2 linked regions of the Homo sapiens genome follow. The protein of the gene in region 1 purifies or fractionates together with the protein of each later gene. This does not show direct contact. Each region holds a gene or a part of one and is shown on either strand. Other genes may lie near its edges.

Region 1 (11,615 bases):
CCACAAATGTCCCACACCTGCACTACAAATTGTCATCCCTGTGGCCCCAAATCATTAAGACCACTGTGTTCTGCCTGAGTTTCCCCTTCCTGCCTCACAATCCAGAAAGCTGGGTTATCATAAGGCCCACCTCGTTTGCTGCCATTCTCTCAGGGATCATGGTCCTCGACTGCCTGTCTTCCAATGTCTGAAAAGAGTGTTTCCAAATCTGTCCAGTTTTCAAGTTGTTTGTGATGTGAGAAGCCTGTCTCAGTCCTCCATGATGGCCAGAGGTGGAAGTTTCTCTTTCGCTGCTTTTTATATCTTCTCTTTTTTGGTTATTCAAATTTTTAGTTTCACCACGTCTAGATGTGGATTTTTTTATTTTTTTTTTTACCCCATGCTTGTTATGCTTCCTGTATCTTTGGATTTACGTCTTTCACTAATTCTTAAAAATCATGTGAAATCATCTTTTCGAATATTGCCTCTCCTCTATACTTTTTATTCTCTCCTTCTGGAACCTCACTTTTACAGTGTTTTAGTCCTTCAGGCTGCTGTAATGAAATAACACAGTCTGTGTGGCTTATAAACAGAATTTCTTTCTCACAGTTCTGGAGGTGGGGAAGTCCAAGATCAAGGTGCCAGCAGATTCAGTGTCTGGTGAAGGCCCATTCCTCATAGGTGGCCATCTTTTCACTCTAACCTCACACAGCGGGAGGGGCAAGGCAGCTCTTGGGGGTTTCTTTATGAGGACACTCATCTCATTCATCTATTCACCTCCAAAGGCCTCACCTCCAAATACTGTCACATTTGGGGATTAGGTTTCAACATATGAATTTGGGGTGGAGGAATACAAACATTCAAGCTATATCACGTGTTTGGCATCCTCATTCCAGTCTCTCAATTGCTAAACCTCTCATTCACATCCTTCATCTCCTTTCCTCTTTGTGTTATATTCTGCGCAATTTTTTTGTCTACCCTTAATTCCCAAATTCTCTCAATTCTGTCTCATCTGTGTAATTTTGCCTTTGGGTTTTTTAACAACTGTATTTTGAACAGTGTTTGATTTTTTTTCCTCTTTAATTTGTTTGAAGCATTACAAACCCGTAGAAAGTTTAAGAGTAAAATTAAACTTTTTTTGTGAATCATGTGTGACCAAGTTGCTGAGCAGATGCCCCATCAGCCACAAGCACTGTATGTAGTATGTATTTACCACAAAGGCTTTCTTCCTACATGCAGCGTATTAATCACTGAAATCGGGAAATTAACTTGGTGTGTTACTGCCATCTAACCTTCAGACCCTATCAATTTTTGCAAATTGTCCCAATAAGAGTGAAAAGATCATTTATTGCATTTAGTTGTGATGTCTTTTTCTTCTTCAGTCTGAAATGTTTTCTTAGTGTTTCCTTGACTTTCGTAATTAGATCTTTGAAGATTACATGCCAATTATTTTCTGGAATGTCTCTCAATTTGAGTTTGTCCTTTTTTCTTCAGAATTAGATTTGGTTAGGTATCTTTGACAGGATGATCACAGAAGTGATGCTGTACTCTTCTTATTGTATTATATCAGGTGGCAACTTTTATTTATCCCATTATTGAAAATGTTTACTTTGATCAGTTAGGGTGGTTTTAGAGGCTTTTCCACTGAAAATTATTCTTTTCTACTATGTAATTAATATATATTTTCTAGGAAGGAACACCTTAACTATTTTGATATACTGTTTCCATATAAAGTTCAATTTATTATTTATCAATATTTGTATAGACACAAGCTTTCCTGTTTTTAGTCTATTGCTCTCATTATTTAATTTGATGCTCATCTCATCTCTGCTTTGGCCCATTAAATCTCACTTCTGTGTCATTTTGACATATCTTTATCACTATTCAAGCACTTCCTTGATTTTTGGAGGGAACAAGATGTTCCAGGCTGATCTTGCGAATTCCATGCCCCAGTTCTGAAATCAGTTGTTTTTCCAAGTAATACTGGTTCCTTTTGAAAAGTGGTATTTAGAAACCAAGGTCTAGGTGCTGGGTGTGCTCAAGATGGGCTGCTGTCTCCAGGGCACTCTTGGTGGACAGTTAGGAAACACACACACATACACACACACACAGTTATACAAAAACAGGCATACACATATTTGCATATACATTTATTCCTACAATGAAATACAATTATCAAAAACCATTAGTGCAATCACTCTGATTCTTTATTCTAGTGACACACCATAGGGTTAATTTTAGCTTTTTCTTCATATAAGTAACTCCCTATTTGCACAGTGTGAAACTTAGCTCCATCACCCTTCATATATTTATATATCTGATCAATTTCCCTGTTCATAACCAACATGCCATCTCTGTTGTCACCTTCTTCTGTGTAGGTCCCCTTATAACTGGAGTTCTGATTCCCTGTGCTCTGCCTCCCACCTGTGTGAAAACTCTCACGATGCTTGTGTTCTGCCGTTCTAGTCTACTTATCTTTGGCAACTCCCACCTCATCCCAGTAGGGCCCTGAATTCCACCTTGGGCCCATCCCTCAGGATCATGTCCTAGTAACCCGGTCATGTGTGACTCCCCATGTTGAACTGCCCCCATGGGTGGATGCCCTCCTCACTTTGCCAATCCACAGGACATACTTTGAAACCTGTGGTGCTCTCACATGCCTTGCTGGGCAGCCCTCTCACAGGGTATGAGCTGGAACACATGCTTGGGCTCCGATCCTCTAGCCTGGCCAGCACATCCCTCCCCACCTCTCCCAGCCCTGCTATACCACTAGTGCTGCCTAATGGCTTTAGGACATTGTTCAGATACAACAAAAAGGAAGCACTCTCTGGCTACTCTAGACAGTCTCTTCTTGATTTTTTTCATCCTTTATTTCCTTAAACCTTTCAAATATTGTCCTTTATGGTAATTTTAATAACTAAAGTCCCTAGGAGGTCAATCTAGTTTGTATTTTTCACTTACAGTGGTTTCTTCCCTCGTGCATTTTGTGATCTTTGATTTTAAGTCCATAGTTGGTTGACCTTAAACTGTGAAGAATATAAGGGGATAATTTGAGAAAGCCCTTCCAGGATCTCTGGCCTAATTTGGGAGCCTGGGGTTTAGATTCCCTCCTCAAAAGCTGTCCAAGAATTTGCTTCCTATTAGCAGTGCAAATGGGGATGACTTCCCCAGTGAAACCCTGAACTTCCTGTACACTACTAACTGCTCAGGCTTTGGATCTGTTTTTTTTTTGTTTGTTTGTTTTGCTTAAGAGATGGGGTTCTGTTTGGTCACCCAGACTGGAGTGCAGTGGTGCTATTACAGCTCATTATAACCTCGAACTCCTGGACTCAGATGATCCTTCCGCCTCAGCCTCCAGAGTAGTTATGCAAAGCAGTTAAAGGTATGCACCACCATGCTTGGCTATTTTTATTTTTATTTTTTGTAGAAATGGGGTTTTGCCATGTTGCCCATGCTGCTCTTGAAATCCTTGGCTCAAGTGATAACCACCTGCTTAGCCTCCCAATGCATTGGGATTACAGGTGTGAGCCACTGTGCCCAGCGTTTTGCTTCCTTCTTGATCCTTTGGAAACATTATTCCTAAAACCTAGCAATACAACAAAAAATGTTTTCCACAGAATCTGTTTTGTTGGAGGAGGGGAACAGAATTTCCAGTTCATCATTACTGAGACGAGAAAGACTTCTATATTCGCTTTATTTACAAAAAAGCAAAGCTTGCTTTTAAGATTTTCAGTAGGATATGTATGAAACTGCAGCGCTCACTAGGTAGTCTTCTTAGGTTTAACCCCTGACACTCATATAATGCCACGCCTGGCAGCAGCTCCACTTTGGAGGACTGAGGAGAAGAAACACACTTCACTGCGGTACAGGCATGGAAGAGCTCTACTCTTTGGCCCAAATGCAATTCAGGAGCAAACCATTATGGGTGGGGGCTTGGCTTGGAAGTCCTTGACCGGCGGGAAACCAGTTCCCTGAGTTTGTCTTTTAGATTCCCACATTCAGTTAAGACAGTAACAGAGGCTAAAGGTATGGCTTCCCACTAGGTGTTTTAAGATTATTCAGTACTTTCAAGCCAGAGGCAGTCTACATGTCAGAGGTCATTTTTACCATGAGCAATGTTTTATTTATTTATTTGGAGATGGAGTTTCACTCTTGTCACCTAGGCTGGAGTGTAGTGGTGTGATCTCGGCTCACTGCAACCTCCACCTCCTGAGTTCAAGTGATTCTTGTGCCTCAGCCTCCCAGGTAGCTGGGATTACATGCATGTGCCACCACACCCAGCTAATTTTTGTATTTTTAGTAGGGATGGGGTTTTGCCATGTGGGCCAGGCTGGTCTTGAACTCCTGACCTCAGGTGATCCACCTGTCTTGGCCTCCCAAAGTGTTGGGATTACAGGCGTGAGCCACCGCGCCTGGCCTACAACCAATGTTGTTTTATACCACAATGAACACTCTGCCTTCATAAGGTTTCTATGACAAGTTAAAGTTAACACAAAGTGAAGTTTGTTCATAGATAAGGACAAGGGGTTGGTTAAATCTTTACTCACAGTAATTTACCAAGAACTTCAAATACTGGGTGTCCACGCTAAAAAATTTTTCCAGTGGGTGTTTGATCAAAAAATTTTATAGACTCTTGTTCTAGAGAAATTCAGTTTCAAGTGGCTTATGAGATTGTTTCATCTGTTAATTTGGTTTTTTGTGGAATTCTTCTGAAGATCACCACTGAATTATCCTGAAAAATATTTTCTGAGTTAGGCATGCCATCCTCCACAGTTCAAAAAATAATGAAAGGTGATAAAGAGTTCAAGCCATTTAAATATGGATGTATTAACGTGCTTTTTAATAGAGACCATTTTTCAATGAGTTGCTTGCAAAACATTTTTTTTGGGGAGTGAGTTCTCACAGTTGAATAATTTTTTTGTTTTTTTTTGAGACAGAATCTCGCTCTGTCACCCAGGCTGGATTGCCGTGGCGCAATCTCGGCTCACTGCAACCTCCGCCTCCTCGATTCAAGCAATTCTCCTGCCTCAGCCTCCTGAGTAGCTGGGATTACAGGCGCGTGCCACCACGCCCAACTAATTTTTGTATTTTTAGTAGAGACGGGGTTTCACCATGTTGGTCAGGCTGGTCTCAAACTCCTGACCTCGTGATCCACCCACCTCAGCCTCCCAAAGTGGTGGGATTACAGGCGTGAGCCACCGCGCCCGGCCAGCATTTTATTATACGTACCGTTTTATCATCTCTTCACCCATCCACCAATGCATCTCCTGTATGGACGTCTTGATTGTTAACTCACGGCACTGGACCTCCAGTTTCATGCCTCTCCACATTGCAGGGTCCTCTACGTTGTTGTATCAGTCACCTTTCTAAAATACAAATCTTACCATGTAAATTGTTTCTAAAATCTTTCAATAGACCCCATAGACTCAGAAAAACGTCCCAAAGTCCGGAATCCTGGCCCCTGCCTACCTTTCCAGTTTCATTGCTGGGTCAGAACGCCTCACCTAAGCCCCACATTGACCGATATGGAATCAATGTTTACAGCCGGTGTGTACTTAATCAACCCCCTTCCCCGACTGCGACCACTCAGATGCGCCTTCCCGGGCCCCACACCCCAAAACCCCTGAGCCCTTTCGTCCACAGCTGTCTGACCACCCAGCACCCTTTCCTTTATGTCAAGTATGAGGATTTCGTTTCTTAACCTTTCTCACTGCTCAAAATGCAAACTCAGACATGAGTGCCGGGCGCTATCCGTCCTGCTCACGTCTTGTTCTCAGGGCCGCAAGGCGCAGGGGCAGTAAGGGCCGAGAGCCCATCAGGGTCCGGCGCTGCCCGCTGCCCAGCCGGGCGCGGAGAAGGGGACGGGGGTCCGGGGTCGCGGGTCCGGAGGGTCTCGGGTTGTAGGAAGTGAGGGCTCGCGGGCGCCGCACGAGTGCGCGTGCACGTTAGCCCGGCGCGCGCGGCACTCATCTCACCTCGCGGAAGCACCTGCCGGAGCTGTGTGCACCCTTTCCTGCCCTCAACACAAGCCGTCGGCGTTCACTACTGTAGCTCATTCAGACCCCACTCTCCAACCTACTGTCCAGGCACAGAAACGACAGTTAAGGTTCCCCCGGACCGTACGCTGGACCTTGCCTCCCCGGCTCCTAACGGGAGACGGGCTGCCGTAAAGCTTCGCTTTGCCGACTGCTGCAAAGCGCCTTACGACTGAACCCGGAATCGACCTATGGCCAGCAGTCGTCCCCGCCCTGCTTCAAACATTTGGGTTTCAGGAGCCGGGCGGAGGTGACTGCCGCGTGTTTGCGTTGCACGCCCACCGCCCGAAACACGGCGGCGGCCTCAGGGCTGCTGCGGCCTCGGCGGGGGCAGGCCCCGGCGCCCGCCCGCCTCCCGGCCTCCATCATCCCAGGGTGCACCGCGGCGGGCGCGGGCGCGCGGCCATGTTGCGGTAGTTTGTTGTTTTCTTCCTGCGGAGGCGAAGGGCCAGCTGTGGACCGCGAAGCGCCCGGCTTCGCCTCTGCCTCCTGCAGCCCCCTCCCTTCTCTGTCCTCCGTCACCCGTACCCGGGCCCGGACCAGGCACGTCGGCCCACCAGCTGGCTTGGTGGGGGAGGCTGAAGGCCGGGCCCCGCGAGTGCCATGGCGGCCGCCCTGGGAGCGAGCGGAGGAGCAGGCGCCGGAGGTACGTGAGGCAGCCGGACTCTGGGGGCCAGGACCGCGCCGCGGTGGGCGGGGGTGTAGGCCGGGGGGCCTCCCCGCTTAGGAGAGGACGAGGCTCTCCCCGGCTCCGACTCTCTTTGTGTTCGGCCTATTCCGTTTTCTCCCTCGCCTTCCCTCGCTATTGTCATTCTCCCTTTCTCGCTCCTCCTCTCCGCTGTGCAGATCGTACTTACCTGTGAACTTCTGTGTGTCCTCTACTTTGCAAGGCTGCCTAAGTGTCAGGCCCATCTCTGGCGTTGGCGGGCATTAAGTGCCGAAGCCGGCCTGGTGTCCTATGGGTAGGAGAGCGCCCCCCCCACCCCCCGAGACAGTGTCACTTAGGGAGAGCGGGGCAGGTCGCTGTAGGGTGGGTGTTTAAGATTGTGGGGCCATCCTGACAGATTTAGATTGATTTGAAGCCCATTACAAAAACATAACGAAAAGATTCACCTGTGTGAAGGAATGTGCGACAGTAGGCCAGTTTGGAAAGTGAGATTTCTTGAGAAAGTCTCAATAAATCCCTGTTTTAAATTAACTTATTTGTTGTCTAATAACCTGTTAGTGTTTTATGTGCGTCTTCCAAAAGTGAAAACGTGACACAAAAGGTTTAGATACTGAGTCAGTTCCTTTGGATAGTTTTTCTTGTTTGCAAGCATAAACAGTATTGATGAAACACCTATCTCTAAAAAATTGTAGGTAAATTACTTTCAGGTAAAATTACATATCACTGGGGGTTTTAAAAACGTGGAGAGATACTTGAAAGTGACTTTTTAAGTGATTATTTTGAAAACTTTGAAAAGATGGTAAAATATGGATAACAAAAGCATTTGGGATTAGTTCTTACCATTGAAACGTTGAAAAGCCAGTCTAGTGTATACTCGAGAAGTATTTTTTAGTAAATGCTAGCAGATGGTTACGTTGTTATCATCCTGTTTAGGAATTTTGGCCCAACTGTCAAAACGTTTGCCTGACAAAATGGAAAAACAAAAAAGACTAAGTGTAGGAATGTCGCTTCTGGCAATTTGGTTTGCTATATGCCACTTTTCTTTCAGTTTAAATACATGATGTTTGCGTGTTACATCTGAGACTAATTAAAATTTTAAAATGTATAGTTCACCTATCTTTCTGGGGGTCAGAATTACTTGTTTTATAGCATTCCCAGTGTAACCTGGGAACTCTTGGGTGAACACTCTTTTCATTAGAAAGACTAAGGTGTTATTTGTATTTTTTCTCTTTTCTTTCAGTAGTGTACAGTGGAGTTTTCTAGAGGCTGAATAACATGTGAAGACGTTATGCTGATGGCTAATGGAATATATGCTTGTGTATTCTTTTACGTTTCTCATTTTAAATTTCTAAAATAGTAATATCACTGAATGTAATCCAGATAAACAGGCATTTTTGGGTCTTCAATAATTTTGAGGTCAGAAGTTTTGAGAATTGCTATTTTAGAAGAATAAGTAGGCTTTATTCATGATGCTTTGGAGTTTTTCCTTCCATTTTGTCACAAGTGCCAAAGTTTCCTTTGCTCTTCATACCAAACTCCTTGCCAAGATTTGTGAGTTCTGTATGACTTGGTCCCTGCCTACCCCACCAGCATGTTGTGTGATTGCTTCCTTTATCCTGGAAGTTCATCGCATGGACTGCTCCTGTACCCGCTCTTGCCAGGGCTGACTCCTGATCCAGTGGATCTCACGCTTTTAAGGGAGGCTTTCCTTGAGAATTCATTGTATCTGAGGAATGTATGTCCGTTGCTCTTGTGCCTCTCTTGTCTTCATTCTCTAGCACCTTTGTTTGTTTTCTTCAGAACGTTTATCTTAATTTGTAATTTTCTTCAGTTTTTACTTGTTTTTTAAATCTGCCTCCCACAGTAGCCTGTAAACCTCATGAGGACAAAAATGCTACCTGTTTTACCATGCGTTCCACGTGTTCCTGGCACATAGCATGTGTTCAACAAACATTTGGTGAATGAATTAAAGGATGAAATGTTTTCTTTACGAATAGGAAATAATATAATTGTATGCTAAGTTATGTTAGTCATTTCCACGTGATTTACCTGTGTAACTGATTAAATCATGTTAGCTTGGAGAAATATTTACATTGGTAATACCTTATTGAGCTATCGATAGCTTATTTGGCAGCTCAGTTTAGCATATTGTCTAGCACAGTGACTTTCAAACTTCTTAAAATGGCAGCCACAGAAATGTGATTGACATTGTGATTTAGTACATACATAAAAGTTAAAAAAAATTTCATGAACAATACTGGTCCATACTATGCCATGCACTCTAATGTTTTCTATTTCATTACAGTAAAATGCTGGTTGTGACCTGGATTAATTTCACAACCTACAAAATGTTCGAGATTGTCAGTTTGAAAATCACTGGTCTCTTGTATAGTAAGTGGTTAGTATTTATTGAATAAAATAGGTCTTGGCTATCCACAATCTGGATAGCCAAAATGGGTACCACAAAGTGTCTATAGGAGTGTTTGCTTATTTTTTACTTTTTTTTTTGAGACAGGGTCTTGCTGTGTTGCCCAGACTGGAGTGCAGTCGTATAATCATGGCTAATTGCAGCCTTGGACTCCTGGGCTCAGTTGATTCTCCCACTTCAGCCTCCTGAGTATCTGGGACTGCAGGTGTGCACCAGCACGCCTGGCTAATTTTTGTATTTTTTGTGGAGACAGGGTTTTGCCAAGGTGCCCAGGCAGGAACTCGGGCTCAAGTGATCTGCCCGCCTCAGCCTCTCAGAGTGCAAGGATTACGTGAGCCACCATGCCTTGGCATGATACATTTCAAAGGAGTCATTTGGTATTGCAGCCAAGTAGTAAGGATAGAGAAATGGAATTGCTATCCTTACTAATAGCAGAGAGAATGACAACTGTTATTTATTGGAGACTGAAAACAAAAACATAAAGGCAAAAACATGGCATTTTGGGGAAGGAACAAATAGTTTAATGAGTTTCAAGATCTTCTAGTTCCAGTGCTTCCTTGTAAAATATAAAATAAAAAATCAGTACACAAATCGTAAAAAGCCTCCAACCTAGTGAGTGCGTTATCTCACTTAAGATTTACAACAGCATTCTTGGGCCTGAGCTAATCTGATTTTATAGGTGAGGTGAAAAAATGGGTGCTTGTAAATTTTTTGTTTTCTAGTCAATTCTTAGAAATAAAAAGTTTTAATGGGAAATTTCAAACACATCCAGTAGTAGAATAATGAACCCACATACCCATCACCTAGCATCAACATTCTGGCAATCTGTTTTCATCCCCCCACCTCCACTTTTGTATATTTCAAACAAATCCTAGGCTGGTAAAATTTTAGAGCAAGATACACTGCTGGGATGAGTTAAGACTTTAGATACTAAACCAGTTGCTTTAATTTACATTTGATAGTAAACTAGCCGAGAAAAGTTCAGCCACCTAGCTGTTAAGAAAGGGAAGTAGACTCGAATTCAGGTTTTTTGACTTCTAGTTCAGTGTTCCTTCCACTGTGTCAGTATGTAGTAAGGCAGGAAAGTATGAAGCATGGTGCAGAAGGTTTTCATTCGAAATTGTGAAAGTGAAACAAGTTTTAGTACTTCAACAGGTAAAATTTACCTGGTAGGAAATTTTTGGAGCATTTTAATCACTAATAGTGCTGATAAATGAGATGTTTTCATACTGATAATTATGTGTGTATTTAATTCTTTTTTTTTTTCCTTCAAGAAAATCTTTCATGCTTAATTTCTTAGCTTCAATCAAGAGAGTTTGAGGAGTCGGGAAAGAATAGCCTTTCTCATTTCAGCCATGAGTACTTTTAGCATTTCTTGTAGGGCAGGTGTACTAATGACAAAGTCCCTTAGGTCATACCTGGGGATATAATTTTTGAATGGCAGTTTGAAATATTTCATCCTATCACCTTCTGGCTTCCATCGTTTCTGATGAGAAATTGACTGTTAATCTTATGGAGGATCCTTTGTACATGACATGTCACTTCTCTCTTGGTGTATTCAAGATTCTCTTTGTCTTTGGCTTTTGATAGTGTGATCATAATGTGTTTCTGTGTGGGTCTCCAGATTTATCCTGCTTGGAGTGGTGAGCTTCTTGAATATGTAGGTTCATGTCTTTCACCAAATTTGGAAGCTTTTTATTTTTTTCTCCAGTTCTTTTTCCTGCTACTTTGTTTTCTCCTTCTGGGACTCCCATAATGCATAGATTGGTACTTTTAATGATGTCCCCGTTTTTTAAGGCTCTGCTTATTTTTCCTCTGCTCCTTAGACTGGATAATTTCAATATTTTCCTGTTTCCTCACCTATAGCACCCTTGTTTTCTTCAGAACGTTTATCTCAATTTGTAATTTTCTTTAGTTATTTACTTGTTTTTTAAATCTGCCTCCCACATAAGCCTGTAAGCCTCATGAGGAGAAAAAATGCTGTTTTACCATGCATTCCACATCTTCCTGGCACATAGCATGTGTTAGATATTTGGTGAATGAATTAAAGAATGACATATTTTCTGTATGAATCTGAAAAAATATAATTGTATCCTAATTTATGTTAGTCAATTCCACATGATTCACCTGTGTAACTGATTAAATCATGTTAGCTTGATTTTTTCGGTCCCTCAGTTTTGGGACTGAAAATTGGACATTTTAAATATGGTGATGTGGAAATTTTGGAAGTCAGAATGTCCCCCCCCTTTTCTGGGTTTGCTATATTTCTTGTTGTGGCCTTCAGTTGTCTGGTTTTTTAATGACTTGCCAAATGAAGAGACTCTATTCCTTGTCTCCTGTGGTCACTGATGTCTCCATTGTGTTGTATCATTGCCCAGCCAGTGATCTGATGGAGATGTCCTCAAATGGCTGGAGCTGCAAATAAAACAAAACCAAAACCAAAAAACAAACAAAAACTCCTGTGCTTACGTTACTTCATTGCTCATCCAGGCCACCTATAACCCCA
Region 2 (11,027 bases), on another chromosome or scaffold:
GAACCGCTGCACTCGGCTCTGGACTTTTCTTACACATTTATTTACACAGGGATGGATGGAGCTGTCGTGGGGTCCTGGGTGGGGCTGCCCTGAGCATGCCTCCGGGGCAGGGTGGGCACTCACGTGGTGATCTTGAGGACGTCCTTCATGCTGGTCAGCGGGTCCGAGTTGTCAGGGCAGCGCAGGAGGCAGGGTGCGAAGATAATGGCCAGCGCCCCAGGTGACATGCGGTTGACATCCTCGAGCAGGGCCACCCTGCACAGCCACTGGCAGTTAGAGGATGGCTAGGGCCGAGGGAGGGAGGTACCAGGGAGCCCCGAGACTGAACTTCTGAGCCCTGGGGTGGCTGTTGGGAAAGCAGTGCCACAGCCCAGCACTGGGAGATGCTTCCGCAGCACAGAGAGGTACCTCAAGGGACCCGGGCGGCCCAGCAGCCTGGCCCCCTCCCAGAACCCCCAACAGTGGTCTGCATCCTGGTTCGAAACCACCACAGAACGCCAGCTCGGGTCCTCCTGGGAAATGCTGCCTCGCGGGTTCCCAATGCGACCCTAACCCCACAGAGGGCAGGTGGGGAGGCACTTGCTTGACAAGGTGGAAGATGAGTCTCTCCAGGGAGTTGTGGTTGGCTTCTGGAAGGTGCTCCAGGACGGCATAGATGGCAGCCAGCTGCTCCTGCTTCTCCGGCAGCTCTGCAGGCAGTGGGGTTTGAGGACGTCAGCTCCCAAGGGTCCCCAAGGTGCCTGTTGTCCCCACCAACACGACCTGAGATGCACAGGTGCCATCCACCCTGTGGTGCCCAGGCAAGAATGGATGGCTACAGAGGTGTCCTGGCCCCACCCCAAACTGGGGACCCGGTTTGGCTGGGCCGACTGCTTTGGGCCTCAGTTTCTCAGTTTGTGAACTGGGTGGTCCTGCCTCCTGGGCTGGTCACAGCGAACGCTGTATCCTGGCTGTGGCCACCTGCTGCCACCCGCACCGCCATGGGGCTCACCGACGGCTCGGAGGAAGTCGCCGTACTGTGCGAAGGTCATGAGGGGCTCGGGCAGCTCCCGCAGCCACTGCTTCAGCACCCCTGTGATGGCGTGGATGGGGAAGTTCTCCAGCTTGACTGCTGCGGGGTCTGTGGGGTGGGTGGGGTGGGTCTGGTGAGCGGCGCACTGGCAGGACGGCTGTGCCTGGGGCCTGGCACTGCACCCACCTGCCCACAGCGCCCACCTGTCTGCAGCGCCTGCCGGAGCTCCCGAGTGCGGTTGGCAGCACCCGACTTGCGGTAGAGGCCCTCGGTGTACAGGCCGTGCATCTCCACGTGTTCCAGGAGCTTCTCCAGCACGATGGGCACCGAGGCCTTGTCGCTGGTCAGGCTGTCTACGCACACGCCGAAGTGGCCAGGCTCAACGCCTGGCTCGCCCTGCAGTGCCGGGGTTGGGGGTCAGGTCTGGGCCTGGCTGTCTTCCTCTCCAGCTGTCTCTGGGGGCCTCTGCCTCCTGGTCCCGCACAAGGCCCTCAGGGCTTCCTCTGCTGTTCTGTCCCTCCCTGTCTCCTTCTGCGTGGTTGTTGGGGGTGTGGGGCTGCAGAAGTCAAGGCCAGCATGGCAGCCACTGGGCAGGGGCTTCCTTTGTAGGCCACCCAAGGCATGGGTGGTCCTTCGTGGGGAGAGAGCTATAACCTAGCCCCCACAGCCACCTCACAGAAGTAGACCCTGACTCTTGCTGCACCCCCAGCACCCAGGACCCCAACCTTATGCACAGAGTTGGGGGGCCTCCCTCTGCATGGCTCAGGACTCTCTCAGGAGCAAGGATGAGCAGGGCTGGGGGAGCTGAGACACACACACAGGCCTGGGCCCTGCCTGAGGGCCTCAAGGAGTTTGTACAGAACCGGGGACAATGGTGTGTTCTGCAGAACCAGAGGCCACAGCCGCCCCCTACTGGCTGCTCAATGCTTCGCTTGGCCCTCACATCAAGCACCACCTCCTGGTGCACCTGGCCGTGAGTGGAGTGTCATTGTAGAAAGTTCCAGGCCTCGTACACTCACCTTCCTCCCGTAGGTGTAGGAGCAGTGGCTCTGAATCTTGTGCACGCACTTCTTGTGGCAGGTCATCTTGCACACTAGGAGGTCCACAGGGTGGGAGTCACAGAGGGTGCTGGGGACCCCAGATTCCTGCAGCCACCCACCCAGCTGGCCGGGGGCCGCCAATTGCCTTCTTTTTTTTTTTTTTTTGAGATGGAGTCTCACTCTTGTTCTCAGGCTAGAGCGCAATGGCGTGATCTCGGCTCACTGCAACCTCCGCCTCCCGGGTTCAAGTGATTCTCCTGCCTCGGCCTCCCGAGTAGCTGGGATTACAGGTGTGCGCCACCACGCCTGGCTAATTTTGTATTTTTAGTAGCGACAGGGTTTCTCCATGCTGGTCAGGCTGGTCTCGAACTACCGACCTCAGGTGATCTGCCCACCTCGGCCTCCCAAAGTGTTGGGATTAGAGGCGTAAGCCACTGCACCTGGCCTGGATTGCCTTCTTTTTGGTTTCTCTTTTTCTTTTTGAGACAGGGTCTCACTCTGTCACCCAGGCTAGAGTGCAGTGGCACTATCATAGCTCACTGGAGCCTTGACCTCCCAGGCCCAGGTGATCCTCCCAAGTAGCTGGCACTACAGGCGTGCACCACCGTGCCTGGCTAATTTCTGTATTTTTTTTTGTATAGATGGGGTCTTGCCATGTTGCCCAGGTTGATTTAGAACTCCTGAGTTCAAGCGACCCTCCCGCCCCAGCCTCCCAAAGTGCTGGGATTACAGGTGTGAGCCACTGTGCCTGGCCTGCCAACTTCTAAACCCACACTGCAGGAACCTGTGCCCTGACTCCTGAGAGAGGAGGCTGTGTGGACAAACTTCATAGCTCCAAGGTGGCCATTCATGGCCTCAGACCCAGCCTGGCTAGCGGAACCATGAGCAGGTGTTTGTGGGGACCTGTGACATCCTTGCCCCAAGTCCCCAAGGCCACCTACTGGCAGAACTAAAGGTCTAAAGGTCCTGCCAGGAGGTGGCCTTGGGGACTTGGGACGAAGATGTCACGGGGCAAAGACAATGCTGCTTTTCCTTCTTCCAACCACACTGAATCCCAGGCCACCCAGCTGACGCCTTGCAGAGGGTACACTGGTTACGCTAAAGAAGAGAGTGTCTGGCACCTGGCAAGGATGGAATCAGGTGAGGGGACGGGCCTGGGTCCCGCATCCTTATCTCAGGACCATGACAACTGACTGTTGGACAGATGTGGGGTGGTGGGGCTGCCTTCTGGGCTGAAAAGACCCTGGCCCAAATGGTTCTGGCAGAAAAACACATGTAGGAGAGGCCCTCTTGACCCTGCTGGGCCTCTGGAGGCTGCCTGGGCTTGGGTACTGACTTGGCCATATCAAAGCTGTGTGAGCATGGATCAGCTGGGTCATTCCTGGGCCCTGTCTCTTAGGGTCCCCTGGGGCTGAGTCTGGCCTACAGGGGAGGGACCGTGAGGAGCCTGGGGAAGGAGGGGCCGATGGTTCAGGCGGTGGAGCAGCGTGTACAGAGACAGAGAGGCAGGGCCCACGAGGAGAGGAGGCTGCAGATGTGGGTGGGTGCTGGCTACTGGGGGCCTTGGGGCCAGCTGAGAATTGGGCTCTGCTCCTCCGGTGATGGTGGACGGTTTGAGGGGGTGGGATATGGCTGGGACAACGGTCCAGAAAGATCTGACCTGGTGGCTGGGCTGGGGTGAAGACCTTTTTTTTTTTTTTTTTGAGACAGAGTCTTGCTCTGTTGCCCAGGTTAGGGTGCAGTGGCGCGATCTCGACTCACTGCAACCTTCGCCTCCCAGGTTCAAGTGATTCTCCTGCCTCAGCCTCCCGAGTAGCTGGGATTACAGGTGCCCACTACTGTGCCCAGATAATTTTTGTATTTTTAGTAGTGATGAGGTTTCACCATCTTGGCCAGGCTGGTCTCAAACTCCTGACCTCGTTATCCACCTGCCTCGGCCTCCCAAAGTGCTGGGATTACAGGTGTGAGCCACCCCGCCTGGCCCTGAAGACCTCTTGAGCAGTGAGGGGTGGTGGGGGACATGGAGGGTTTTGGGGCCTGGTGGGGGAGCCACTCACCGCTGCAGAGCAGGGCCTTGTCCATGAGCCAGATATAGGAGAGGCACTGCTCGCACGACTGCGGGATGCTAACCTGGTAGCTGGCGAACACGTGCCCGTTGTGCTCCTGGACCTGTGAGGCCAGAGGAAGGCGCTGGGCAGGGAAAGGGGAAGGCAGCCCTCCCCAGCCACTGGTGGATGACGACCCATGGGATCTCAGGGGTGACTTATTCAAGACTACGGCTCCGTATATGCCGGGGGAAAAACACACTCACACGTGTCCACGCACACATACGCGTGCAGACGGGCCCATGCGCACATTGACACTGACACACACGTGCATGCTCCTGCCAATGTTCGCCTGCTCGGACTCTCATCTATGTGCAGCCTACTCACAGCACGCTCCTGCTTCCGCTTCTTCTTCTGAGCTTTGCTCTGCTGTGAGGAACACAAGGAGGAGGTTGGCGGGGGCCCCCCTGGGAAGAGCCCCAACCCACCCCTGGCACCCCATAACTCAGGCGTGTGGGTACCCTGAACCCTCCCTCACCTGGAGTGGCATCATTGTCCCTAACGCCCCCATTCAGACACCCCAGACCCAGAAGTGAGGCTCTGTTGGGGAGGGTGCAGGGCTCCCCACCAGGAGGTAGGTGTGGCACAAATGGGCACGGCATGGTATAGGTGGGCATGGCATGTAATCATGGCAAGGGATGGGTAGGCATAGCATGTTGCATGTCATAGGCGTGGCATGGCATGGGTGGGTGTGGCATGTCAGGTGGGTGTGGCATAAGTGATCATGGTGAGGCACAGGTAAGCATGGCATAAGTGGATCAAGTCATGGCACAGTGGCTGTGGTATGGGCAGGGCATGGGTGGGTGTGGCATAAGCATGGTGAGGCATGGGTGGGCGTGGCTAAGGATGGCGAGGCATGGGTAGGCGTGGCATGTCACAGGTGGGCGTGGCATGCTGGGCTGCCCACCTTCACTGGCTCGAAGTCGTTCTTGGTGTAGCCACGGGTGAACTCATCTAGCAGTGACTGGAAGAGGTTGAGGACCAGGTTGGTGTCCTTCTGGCCACGCTCAGTGGCCAGGTTGCTGACGACGATCTGGTAGTTCTCCATCAGATCCTTGTAGCCCACGTGGATCTTCCCGTTCTGTAGGAATGCTAGGCGTCACCCTGCAGGCCTGGGCAAGGGGCGGATGGGAATGACGGGTCTGAGCAGGGTATGGGAAAGGCTGAAGGCCGGGCCGCCACATACCGGGACAGAGTACATCGTTTTGATGTTGCTCCTGAACTTCTCGGTGGCTTCGATAAACAAGCTCTCAATGGGCGTCTTCTGGGAACGGAGGTCATTTATCTGGAAGGGGAGAGGAACTGACCCTGCGTGCCTCAGGCCTGGGGACCTGCGTACCCGAGGAGGTGCCCAAGGGGTCACTTCTATCCTCTCTTAAGTCATCCCCTAGGCTCTCGGGATAAAATCCAGTCCCTCTGGCCAAGCCTGGTCTCTCATCTTGTCAACCCAGAGTTAAAGCCACTGACATTGAGGGCAGGACTACTCTCCACATTGGGGCCTGCCCTGTGTACCACAGCAGGTTAAGCAGCATCCCTGGCCTCCACCCACCAGATGCCAACAGCGCCCTCCCCTGAGGCTGTGATAACCCCAATGTCCCCAGACATTGCCAGTGTTCCCTGGCGGACAGAATCCCCCCTAGATGAGAGCTACAGGTCAGTTCAGGCCCTTCCTGCTGCCCCACACAGGGGCTCAACACCCAGCCATACCTTAGGATGGGGATGCCTGGAATGGCCTGGTAATTTCAAGATGCCTCTACTCCTAGCAGGGTTTCCTGATCCTTCTGTGTCCCCATCGGCCCCCTGTGCCCGCTGTGCAGCTCCCAAATGTAGCTCTATCTGCTGCAGGATTGCCCACCCCCCACCCCCACGGGGTATAACCCTCCTGAGGGCAGCCACAGCTTGTTCGCCTCCACTTCTGTTGCACACAGTGCTTCATCAATCTTTGCTTTGAGACCAAATATGCATTATTATTTTTTTTGAGCCAGGGTCTTGCTCTGTCACCCAGGCTGGAGTGCAGTGCTGCGATCGTGGCTTGTGGTGCCTCGACCTCTTGGGCTCAAGCGATCTTCCTGCCTCAGCCCCCAGGAGCTGGGACTACAGGTGTGCACCACCACTCCAGCTAATATTTAAACCTTTTGTAGAGATGGGGTCTCTCTGTTGCCCAGGCTGGTTTTGAACTGCTGGGCCCAAGTGATTCTCCTGTCTCAGCCTCCCAGAGTGCTGGGATGACAAACATGAACCACTGTCCCCGGCCTGAGCCTGGACTTTGTATTCTTGACCTGCTAAACCCTGTGTTGTGTGTTTCAGAAAACAATGCCTGGCTGTGATGGTTCCCCTGGGGACCGGGCCTCATGCCCCTGGCCCTCGCCTAGTGATCCCACCTTGTTGAGCAGGAACTCGTCCAGGTACTTGAGCTCATTGGCGTTGGTGATCTGGCGGAACACCGATTCCCGCCACTTCTCTGACACTGTGATCTTCCCAATCTTGACATTTCGGTTCTTCTTCCCTTTGCCTCCTGGTTCCTTGGTGCGCTTCTCACCTGCAGCGTGGCGATGCTGCTGTCCGGAGGGGGCTGAGGGGGGACAGGAAGCAGCCGGTGAGGGTGGGTTCAGGGGGAGGATGCAGGGGACCTCCTATGGCACGCCTTTATCCAGGGCCAGAAACCCCTGGCTCTGTGCCTAGGGCTTGGCCCACAGCCAACTCAAGGCCCCGTTTGGGGACAGTGAATGTCCCCAGGGGCACTGGTGGCTCTACTGTCTGTCCCTGAGGCTGCAGGCTACCAACCTTCCAGGCCCTTCTTCATGGTGGTGGCTTCCAGCACCACGTGCCCGGACACTGCATTCTCCAGCTCCTCTGCGCCCTCCAGGCTGTATTTTTTATCCTTGGTTTTATGCAGAAAAAGCCTCTTAAACGTGGATCTGCAGGAGAAAGTACGTGGCTTCTTTTAAGTCTGAAATGAAAATGGACGTGAGGCCCAGCCTCCCTGTGACTGGACACATGGCAAATGCTCTATCAATGCCTGACTCAAAAAAGGATCTGGCCTGGCATGGTGGCTTATGCCTGTAATCCCAGCACTTTGGGAGATCCAGGCGGGTGGATCATCTGAGGTCAGGAGTTTGAGACCAGCCTGGCCAACATGGCAAAACCCTGTCTCTATTACAAATACAAAAAAATAGCAGGGCGTGATGGTGGGTTCCTGTAGTCCCAGCTACTTGGGAGGTTGAGGCAGGAGAATTGCTTGAACCCAGGAGGTGGAGGTTGCAGGTTGCAGTGAGCTGAGATCGCACCATTGCACTCCAGCCTGGGTGACAGAGTGAGACTCTGTCTCAAAAAAAAAAACAAAAAACAAAAACAAAAATGGATCTGGCTGGGTATGGTGGCTCACGCCTATGTAATCTCAGCACTTTGGCAGGCTGAGGTGGGTGGATCAGCTGAGCCCAGGAGTTTGAGACCAGGCTGGGCAACATAGCGAAACCCCTTCTGTACCAAAAATACAAAAAAAAAAAAAAAGAAAAAAAAAGAAAAAAAAATTAGCTGGGCATGGTGGTGCACACCTGTACTCCCAGCTACTTGGGAGGCTGAGGCAGGAGAATCGCTTGAGCCTGAGAGGTGGAGGCTGCAGTGAGCGGAGATTGAGCCATTGCACTCCAGACTGCCAGACTGGGCAACAGAGCAAGATTCTGTCTCAAAAAAAAAACAAACAAAAAAACAACACAGGATTATCTTATAAAGAGCAATAGCCCTTTCTTTGTACTGGCAGGGGAGTTATGTGAAGAAAGAAGGATACCAAACAGAAGCCACAGGGGGACTCCATTTTCTTTTCTTTTTGTTCCAGTTGGGGTGTGACTCAGTCTGGAGTGCAGTGGTGTGATCATAGCTCGCTACAGCCTCAAACTCCTGGCCTCACGAGCATGATCCTCTCACCTCAGCCTCCTGAGTTGTTGGGATTATAGGTACAAGCCATGCGCCTAGCTCATTATCTTTTTAAGTTAAAAAAAAAGTTTTTTTGAGACAGAGTGTCATTCTCTTGCCCAGGCTGGAGTGCAGTGGTATGATCACAGTTCACTGCAGGCTTGATCTCTTGGCCTCAAGGGATCCTCCTGTTTCAGCCTCCTGAGTAGCTGGGACTACAGGCATGCACCGCCCTGCCTGGCTAATTTTTGAAATTTTTTTGCAGAGACAAGATTTTGCCACGCTGCCCAGGCTGATCTTGAACTCCTGGCTTCAAGTGATCATCCCACCTTGGCCTCCCAAAGTGTTGAGATTACAGGCGTGACCTACTGCATCCATTCAGCCACGTGTCCTTTTAAGGGACAGAAGACAGAAGACACAGACACTGAGGGGAAGGCCAAGTGCCGATAGAGACAGAGATTAGAGTGATGGAGCCACAAGCCAAGGAACACCTGGAGCCCCCAAAAGCCAGAAGAGGCAGGAAGGATCCTGCCCTAGAGGCTTTTTTTTTTTTTTTTTTTTTTTGAGACGGAGTCTCCCTCTGTCACCCAGGCTGGAGTGCAGTGGCATGATCTCAGCTCACTGCAACCTCCACCTCCCGAGTTCAAGCGATTCTCCTGCCTCAGCCTCCCGAGTGGCTGGGATTATAGGTGCCTGCCATCATGCCCAACTAATTTTTGTATTTTTAGTAGAGATGGGGTTTCACCATGTTGGCCTGGTTGGTCTCCAACTCCTGACCTCAAGTGATCCACCCGTCTCGGCATCCCAAAGTGCTGGGATTATAGGCGTGAGCCACTGCCTGGCCTCCCCATTCAGTTTCTACTGAGCAAATGCCTTTGCGAACGTGCTTTGTAAACGTGATTGGTTTAGGAGGCCACACTGCTGCGAGGCCCTGGCAGGGACCCCGGGCATCCTCTGGTGGCCTGAGTTTCCCCCAAGCCCAATACTTACTTAGAGTCGACCTGAGAGCCCGGGGACAGCCCTGCGTCTGGGAGGGAGGATGCGTCGCCTGGCTTCTTCTTCTGGACAGCTGGCTTTTTCGCACTTCGCTCTCCGTCCGTGGTTTCTGCTGCAGGCTGCAAGACGGTGCAGTGGGGGGCTGCTAAGGAAAGGCTGGCAGTCCTGTGCTAGATGGGGAAGCCCCTGCAGGCATTTACACTCCATCCACCGACCTCACTTCCTGCTTTTTTTTTTTTTGAAACGGAGTCTCACTCTAGTTGCCCAGGCTGGAGTGCAGTGGCCTGGTCTCGCGAGGCTCACTACAACCTCTACCCTGCCACTGCGTTCAAGCGATTCTCTCGCCTCAGCCTCCTGAGTAGCTGGGGTTACAGGCAAGCGCCACCACGCCTGGCTGATTTTTGTATTTTTAGTGGAGACGGGGTTTTGCCGTGTTGTTGTTACCTGAGCCTTGGCCAGGGACGGGAGGAGCTTGGAGACGTCGCTCGTGGAGAAGGAGGTGCGCCTCTCCCTGCGAGATCACAGAAACATGGCTTTTACTGACTAGAGTGAGTCAGTGGCATTTTCTTGTCTTAGTGGTTCTTGGGTTCTCACTTGGGCAGTTCTGCCCCTGCCAGGGGACACTTGGCAATGTCTAGAGACAGTTTTGGTTGTCACCACTTGGGTGGGGGGAAAGGAGTGGGTGGGTACTTCTGGCCTCTGGTGAGTGGAGGGCAGGGATGCTACTCAATACCCTACAGAGAATGGTCTCCACCCCAGAGAGTGAGCCAGCCCCAGATGTTGAGTGTGGAGGGTAGGAAACCTTGCCTTAGCCCAAGAGACCCTGCCTGCCTGCCCATCTATCTATCTATGTATCTATCTATCTATCTATCTATCTATCTATCTATCTATCTATCATCTATCTATCCATCCATCCATCCTTCTACTCATTGACTCATTGTCTCTATCTTCCACCCATCCATCCTCTTTATCTGCCTTCCATCCATCTCTTCATCTGTCATCTCTATCTATCTTTTTTTTTTTTTTAGACGGAGTTTTGCTCTTGTTGCCCAGGCTGGAGTGCAATGGTGTGATCTCGGCTCACTGCAACCTCTGCCTCCCAGGTTCAAGTGATTCTCCTGCCTCAGCCTCCCGAGTAGCTGGGATTAGAGGCATGCGCCAACACATCCAGCTAATTTTTGGTATTTTTAGTAGAGACGGGGTTTCGCCACGTTGGCCAGGATGGTCTCAAACTCCTGACCTCAGGTGATCCACCCGCCTCAGCCTCTCAAAGTGTTGGGATTATAGGTGTGAGCCCCCGAACCCGGCTCTACCTATCTTCTACCCATCCGTCCCTCCATCATCTCTATCTTCCTCCCATCCATAATCTACCTATCATCTATCCATCCCTCCATCCATCAACTCTATGTTCCTTCCATCTCTCCATCTCTATCTTCCAGCCATCCACCCATCCTTCTGTCTGTCCATCCATCCATCCATCCACCCACCCAGCCATCCATCATCTCTACCTATCTTCCATCCCTCCATTCATTGTCTCTACCTACCTATCTTCCTTCCATCCATCTATCGTCGGCATCTATCTTCCTTCTATCCATAATCTCTACTTTTTTTTTTTTTTTGAGACGGAGTCTCATCTCTGTCATCCAGGCTGGAGTGCAGTGACTTGATCTCGGCTCACTGCAACCTCTGCCTCCCAGGTTCAAGCGATTCTCCTGTCTCAGCCTCCCAAGTAGCTGGGATTACAAGCATGCGCCACCACGCCCAGCTAATTTTTGTATTTTTAGTAGAGACAGGGTTTCACTATGTTGGCCAGGCTGGTCTCGAACTCCTCTCAAACTCTTGGCCTCCCAAAATGCTGGGATTACAGGCATGAGCCATCGCGCCCAGCCTAATTTCTACCCATCTTCTATCCATCCATCTCCCCATCATCTGTATCATCCATCCATCCATGCCTCTATCCAT

The links.
Region 2: the proteins of RBM33 (region 1) and MYO9B purify together in Homo sapiens (affinity purification with mass spectrometry; 2 studies listed by BioGRID and IntAct, with this or other methods). This does not show direct contact.

What each region holds. Positions count from the first base shown.
Region 1 is NC_000007.14:155,638,260-155,649,874, forward strand, and holds the start of RBM33 (RNA-binding protein 33), read left to right. Parts: upstream 1-6,401; 5' UTR 6,402-6,617; coding exon 6,618-6,660; intron 6,661-11,615. UniProt on the Homo sapiens protein: RNA reader protein, which recognizes and binds specific RNAs, thereby regulating RNA metabolic processes, such as mRNA export, mRNA stability and/or translation.
Region 2 is NC_000019.10:17,196,341-17,207,367, reverse strand, and holds part of MYO9B (unconventional myosin-IXb), read right to left. Parts: intron 9,577-11,027; coding exon 9,510-9,576; intron 9,185-9,509; coding exon 9,060-9,184; intron 7,076-9,059; coding exon 6,942-7,075; intron 6,730-6,941; coding exon 6,539-6,729; intron 5,443-6,538; coding exon 5,344-5,442; intron 5,239-5,343; coding exon 5,065-5,238; intron 4,527-5,064; coding exon 4,485-4,526; intron 4,222-4,484; coding exon 4,110-4,221; intron 2,106-4,109; coding exon 2,032-2,105; intron 1,409-2,031; coding exon 1,216-1,408; intron 1,121-1,215; coding exon 992-1,120; intron 690-991; coding exon 584-689; intron 256-583; coding exon 124-255; intron 1-123. UniProt on the Homo sapiens protein: Myosins are actin-based motor molecules with ATPase activity. Unconventional myosins serve in intracellular movements. Binds actin with high affinity both in the absence and presence of ATP and its mechanochemical activity is inhibited by calcium ions.